Regions from separate parts of the Homo sapiens genome. Here region 1 is linked to region 2. The links come from fine-mapping of genetic effects on plasma protein levels. A gene starts in region 2. The other region holds a variant in brackets. All regions are shown on one strand. Distances are from middle to middle.

Region 1 (2,895 bases), 43 kb before region 2:
GGATGCCTCCCTGTGTGGCTGGGGTGTCCCCGCTGGCCTAGGGGGATCGAGTGTGCTCTCGTGTAAGAGTGTGTGCGTGCGTGTGGCGGGCACAGGGGGCCCCACGGATCGGCGAGCAGCAGTCGGCCGGGCCTTTCAGTGCATTGCGAGGGGGAAGGAGCTGACTCTGACGGTTCCCAGTGTGTCTCTGGTGGGGGTGGGGGGCTTCAGCCTGAGGGGATGTTTCACACATTCACACTGCAGGGGCGGGGCGAGGGGAGCTGCTCTCCCTCTCACACAGCTCTACTGTCAAACATCA[T/C]GGCACCAGTCACCACAACCTTGTCACGTGCACTAGAAGGGGAGGGGTCCGTGCCTGAGCCCTTGGCAGCAGGCGGTCCCTGGCGTTCTGCGGGGCCATGGTGGACACGCCAGGAGATCTGCACCCCGTGGGCGGTCCCAGCCCACACATGGGGAAGCCGAGAGGACGGAGCCCGCGCCTCCCTCCACATCTACGCGTCTAGCAGAACACAGGGAGCAGGGCCAGGAGCGGGACGAGGGCGCCCAGGAGGGGCCGGGGGGCCAGGGGCAGCCCCGCAGCCGCCCTGCCTGGCAGGTCCCGAGTCCTCTCATACAGGTGCAGTTTGTCTTTGTTGGAGTGGAGCATCTTGACATCCTCCAACGCGTAGTAGGCGGCCAGTGTGAAGTTCACGTCGCCCGTGGTGAGGAGGTCGAAGACGCAGGCCTGGTAGTACAGGTCCTCCACCGGCAGCTTCTCCTTGCACTTGGCCACGGCTGTCTCGTATGGGAAGGTCTCGGGGGCTGTGGGTGCAGGGCTGGCGGCTGCCAGCCTGCGGGCACCGGTGCCCTCAGCATTGGTGTGGAAGGCCTGGAAGTCGATCTGCTGGTTGAGGGGGCAGCCCCGCAGGCAGAGGTAGAGACCCTGGCTGTCCCAGTCCTCCACAGCATTGACCACTTCCTCTGGCATGCGGACGGCAAAGGTCAGGTAGCGGCCCACCTGGCGCACCACGATGGTGGTGCCGATGTACTTGGCCTGGATCTCCACGTGCTGGCCTGACACCTTCTCAGTGATCTTCAGGCTGTTGGCCCCGTGCTTGTCCCCACCGTTCTTAGAGCCATCCACGAAGGCGGCCGGGAGCTCGTCCATCTCAGCCTGGTACACCTTCTGGTCCACACACTCCTGGAAGTTCTTGAAGATGATGGTGAGCTGCCGGGGAAAGGGGCAGAGGAGAGTGGGTGAGGCACAGTGGGAGGAGGCACAGCCCCACACTTAAGATGCTCTAGACTGAGAGGAGGGCAGGAAGGATCCCCAGGGATGCCCCAGACACTCCCTTCTCCAGGTTGGACAGATCAGTTCCACCTGCGCAGCTGTGCACTTCACATTCTTTCAATGAAAACAACTTGCCCTTTTTACTTTAAAAAGTGACTTAGAAAAATGTTAGACCACTACCCTAAGTAGAAAACTAGCTCTTTTACTATATAGGGAAGTGAACCAGAAAAATAAAAGCATAGATAATTAAAAATAAAAGGTCAAAAGCCCAGTGTGGTAGGCTGAATAATGGCTCCCAAGAAGAACATGCCCTAATCCCTGTAACTTGGGAATGTTCCCTTAGATGGCAAAAGGGACCCTGCAGATATGATTAGGTTAAGAACACTGAGATGAAGAGATTATTCTGGATTACCTGGGTGGGCCCTAGATGGAATCACAAGTATCTTTATAAGAAGGAGGCAGAGGGAGATTTGACTAACTAGGACAGAGGAGAAGGTGATGTGCTCAACAAGGCAGAGATTCGAATGATGTGGCCACAAACCAAGGGATGCTGGCAACCACCAAAAGCTGGAAATGGCAATGAATGGATTCTCCCCTGGAGTCTCCAGGACCAGCCCTGCTGATACCTTGATTTTATCCCCACGAGACATATTCCCAACTTCCGGCCTCCACAATTATAAAACATTTCTGTTGGTTTGAACCACTCAGTTTATGCTAATTTGCTACAGTGGCGATAGGAAATGAATATGGTTTGCAAACATCATCTTGCATAATGACAGTGGTACTGGAGCACAATTCCTGACAAAGGACCCAAGCAAATGTCTGAACATTACAGCAGGTGGAATGGAGGGAAATGATGCTCAAAGAAAGAATGAATAGGGCAAAATCCATGCAAGCAGGCAGAGGCAAGCAGAAGCCACTGTCCCAAGGCTGCTGAAAGGGGTCCCCAAGCTGGGTCATGGAGGAGGGGAACAGGAAAGGAGCAAGGTGCTGGTCGGTAAAAGGGAGATGGAGGTTCCAGGCTGAACGGGCAGCCTTGGCCGGGGCTGGAGCAGGGAGGCTCCTTTCTGCTGGAGCCTGTGGCCAGGGGTGAGGGGCTGGACTGAGCTGCTGGAGCAGCAGCTGGCTGGGTGGCACTGTTCTCCTGAGAGCCAGACACAGAGGCATTGGCTGCATACAGCATGCTAAGCACTGCATGTATTACTTCCAGTCTCGTGTGACACTGCAAGGGTCGGTGACATTACTCTCAATTTTCCGGATGAGAAAATGTAGGCTCAGAGAGAGGCAGTAACTTGCCTAAGGTCACACAGCCAGCAAGAGGCAGAGCTGGGATTAGACTCTGCGTTTCCAGACTCTGGGCTCTCTTGGCCACAAGCCCATAGGGTGGGAGGCCTGAGAGGAGGAGGGCCGGTGGCCAGGGGAGCAGGTGAGTTTCCTCTGCCGTCCGCGTCCTGGGTGGCGTCTGGCTGTTCTTTCCTCCCTAACCCTAAGCAGGTTTCTGGGTTGGAAACAGAGAAACTGGGAGAGAAAAAACCACCCCTTCTTCCACTCCTTTCCCAGGTGTCAGCTGTTTTGCCATGGGAGCTCTGGGTGCCTTGGTCCCCCTGGACCAAGGGCAGCTGGAACCT
Region 2 (2,901 bases):
CCCTGGTACCGTCGATACTCAGAGAGCTTCTGTAGCCTCCTTCCTGGAGGCGAGGGCTGGTTCCCGCCTCTCCACCTTGTGCGGGAGACTACTTTGAGAACACCCAACAACTTCGCAGCCTAAGAGGAATGCACAGCTCACCACTTCCGCTAGATGGCGCTACTTCCCCTACTCCGCCCGCGAGACACCCAATTTATAAAATAAATACAACCCAACACCTCCCAAAACCACACCACATAATAGCAGCTCACAGGCTCCCATTAGAAATCTCAATTTGGGAGAACTGATTCTACCTCCGAGCAAGTCTAATACAATTACATTAATAAGACGCAATCCCGAATTGCACCCGAGCGTCCCCCACACCCGCCCTCCCATTGAATACACCTGTCCCCCATGCCCGGGCTTGTACCCTGGGTTGAGCTGCGGCGCGAGCCGGCGCTGAATCGTCGCCGTGCCCTCCCGTCCACTTAGGAAAGCCGGGGCGGCTTGGCAATGGGCATCCTCGGCCCTCAATCCAAGGTCCGCACCTTCCCGTACGCCGGCGCGCCGAGGCAAAGGGCCGCCGGGACGCGAGCCCACGCGGTGCACTGCGCCGACATCCCCGAGGGCAGGAGATGGCCAGGCAGCTCCGCAGCCGGGCGTCGAGCGGGAGGCGGGGGCCCGGGCGGCGCGGGCCAATGGGGGTTCACGGCGGGACAGTCGGGTGGCCGGCTCCGTCCGGGGCTCCGCGAGCCGGGCTGAGGGAAGGAGCTCCCAGCCCGCACACGGTGTAAGGGACGTGTGCCGGGTCTGCCCAACCACGCGCGCTGGCGGCTGCCCGGGGGAGAGTATTTTAGGAAAAAAGAACAAACACCAAACCACAAAAACTTTCCTGCTGCCAACAGCTAAAGCGATAGAGGCGCAGCAAAGCTCCAAATGTGGGCAAGATGGGAGCAAGATGAGACGCGGGGCTAAGGAAGACCAAAGCAGCGCCGTGGCCCCGGCATGTGTCGGCGGCGCCTCGGAGATGTCAGAGCCGGGTCTGCCCGGCTCCCGACCCGCGCTTACCTTGGCGGCTGCATGAGCCCCTGCGGCCCGCGGGGGGTGGCGCTGGCGGGGCTGCGGGAGAAGAGGGGGTGTCGGGGCGCCGCTCGTCTGCCCCGGGGCAAGGTGGGAGGGGCTCCGCTGGCGCTGGTCCCCGCCGCCCCGGCCGGCTCAGCAGCGGCCCGGGGAGCGCCTCCTGCTCCCGGGCTGCATGCCTGCGAGCGCCTGGCGGAGCCGGCCCGGGAGCGAACGGCCAGTGCTTCCCCGGCCCAGCGGCTCGGGCGGCGCAGCCAGCGCTCGGGAGACAACTGCAGAGTGGGGCGGCCGGGACCAGCCCCCTCCCTCGCCCGGCCCCCGCCCGCCGCCGAGCGCGGCGTCGCGAGGTTCGTTTGCGCGCCGAGGGGAGGGGGCGGGCCGGGCGCCCGGGCCGCGGGCGGGGGGCGCGCGCGGGCGGGGCCGGCAGGGAGGGGCGGGGAGGAGCGGGGTGCGGGCTCGCGTTGCCCCGCCCCGCCGCGGCCCCACCCTCCCGCATCAGCACCGGCTGGGTGGGTGCGGAGTGCGCCAGCGGCCAAGTCAAGACTCCTTGAATGCTCAGGTTAGGGGGCGCGGGCGGCAAGTGCGGCGACTCCCCGGGGCGCCTCCAACTTTCCGAATCGCCCGCAGGGTTGCGGTGGAGCGCACGGTGTCCTTCAGTTAGGCGGTGGTCGAGGGGAGTTCCTCTGAGATTTCTGGAGAAGGCGGTTACATCCAAGACAAATGCTGTTGCGCTCTGCGGAGACGCACCTTTGTTCTATAGAGATTTTGTTGTTGTTTAAGAATCTTCCTGAAAAAACTAATACATATGTATTACATGCTAACACACGCATACATTCTTGCGTAGAATTGTACATAACTCAGGAGTGTCTAGAGTGAAAAGACCGTATCGCACTCCCTCCCACGGCCGCGGCTCTCCCACGGCCGCGGCTCCCCCGCGGTAACCTTCGGTCAGGGTGTGCTCTGCCGCGGTTCTTTCCAGTCTCTGCGCTTTTACATGCACACGCACAGATTGCGAGTGGAATCTCCTGGGCTTTTCAAAAGAATGTTTTCAACATTAAGCGCATGCACACAGTGGCTTGAACACGGCCACGTCGGGAGCAGTAAATCCCCAGAGGCTCCGGGAGCCCAGGGAAGGACCCTTGCTGTGAAACAGCAAAGAGCCACCCAATCGCCATGTGTGGATCTGAAACCCCAGCTGGAGCGTGAAGTCGGTCTGGTTACACAGCTCAGGCCCAAATTAGCACTGCACGGTTAGAGAGATTTGCCAGTACATTCTAGACAGGGTTATGACCTTCCCCTTCTTACAGAACAAACTGTCTTGAATTTTGATATGATGAGAACTCTGGATTTGCAAAATGAAAAGGTATCGTCCGCATTAAAACACGATCGTTATTTATGCGTGTGGTCTTCAGAGATGTGGTTTTAACTCAATATTCTCCGTTTTATTTGTCAAGTGTATTTGTATAATCTATAGCTGGGATATAAATAAAATTAAGTGGTTTAGCAGGAAGGGATTGGGGATGGGTTTCTAGAATTAGCTCTGACCTTCGGCAAGTCATCTAGCTCTGCTGGGCCTCAGTTTCCTCATCTATGAATAGTAGGGTGTGTGTGTGTGTGTGTGTGTGTGTGTGTGTGTGTGTGTGTGTGGTCTTCCTGCCCTGACATTCTGTGCCCTGACATTCAGTGAATAACCAATTTCTTCATCTTTCATAGCTCAGCTCCAACATCTTCCCCACCCTCTAGGGAGTCCTCACATCCGTGCCTTTCCTTCCTAACACTGAGCTCACTCGGTAATTAGGCGCTCATTAGAGTGACCTTTCCCTACATGTTGGCCTCTCCCAC

Which allele goes with the higher level. Alleles are on the strand shown, and positions count from the first base shown. The strength of an association depends on the size of the effect and on how common the allele is.
As copies of C replace T in region 1, the plasma level of the protein whose gene starts at base 1,340 in region 2 goes up (moderate association).

What was found. PIP is the posterior inclusion probability: the model's chance that the variant is causal. Protein levels are from antibody-based Olink assays in UK Biobank. Linkage for the fine-mapping came from a reference panel and not from the study's own genotypes, which makes the PIPs less certain.
Region 1: its variant is fine-mapped to the plasma level of the RGMA protein (UK Biobank, PIP above 0.99).

What each region holds. Positions count from the first base shown.
Region 1 is chr15:93,044,502-93,047,396 of GRCh38, forward strand. RGMA (repulsive guidance molecule BMP co-receptor a) reads right to left here. Exons shown (of 4, transcript NM_020211.3): 4 at 1-1,204. The coding sequence ends at 497. Among named protein-coding and RNA genes, the nearest start is that of RGMA, 43 kb to the right of the region's middle. The variant T/C (reference allele first, on the strand shown) is at 299.
Region 2 is chr15:93,087,872-93,090,772 of GRCh38, forward strand. It overlaps RGMA (repulsive guidance molecule BMP co-receptor a), which reads right to left and starts at 1,340. Exons shown (of 4, transcript NM_020211.3): 1 at 1,048-1,340. The coding sequence starts at 1,061. LOC101927025 (a long non-coding RNA gene) reads left to right here and starts at 1,343. Exons shown (of 5, transcript XR_007064769.1): 1 at 1,343-1,406.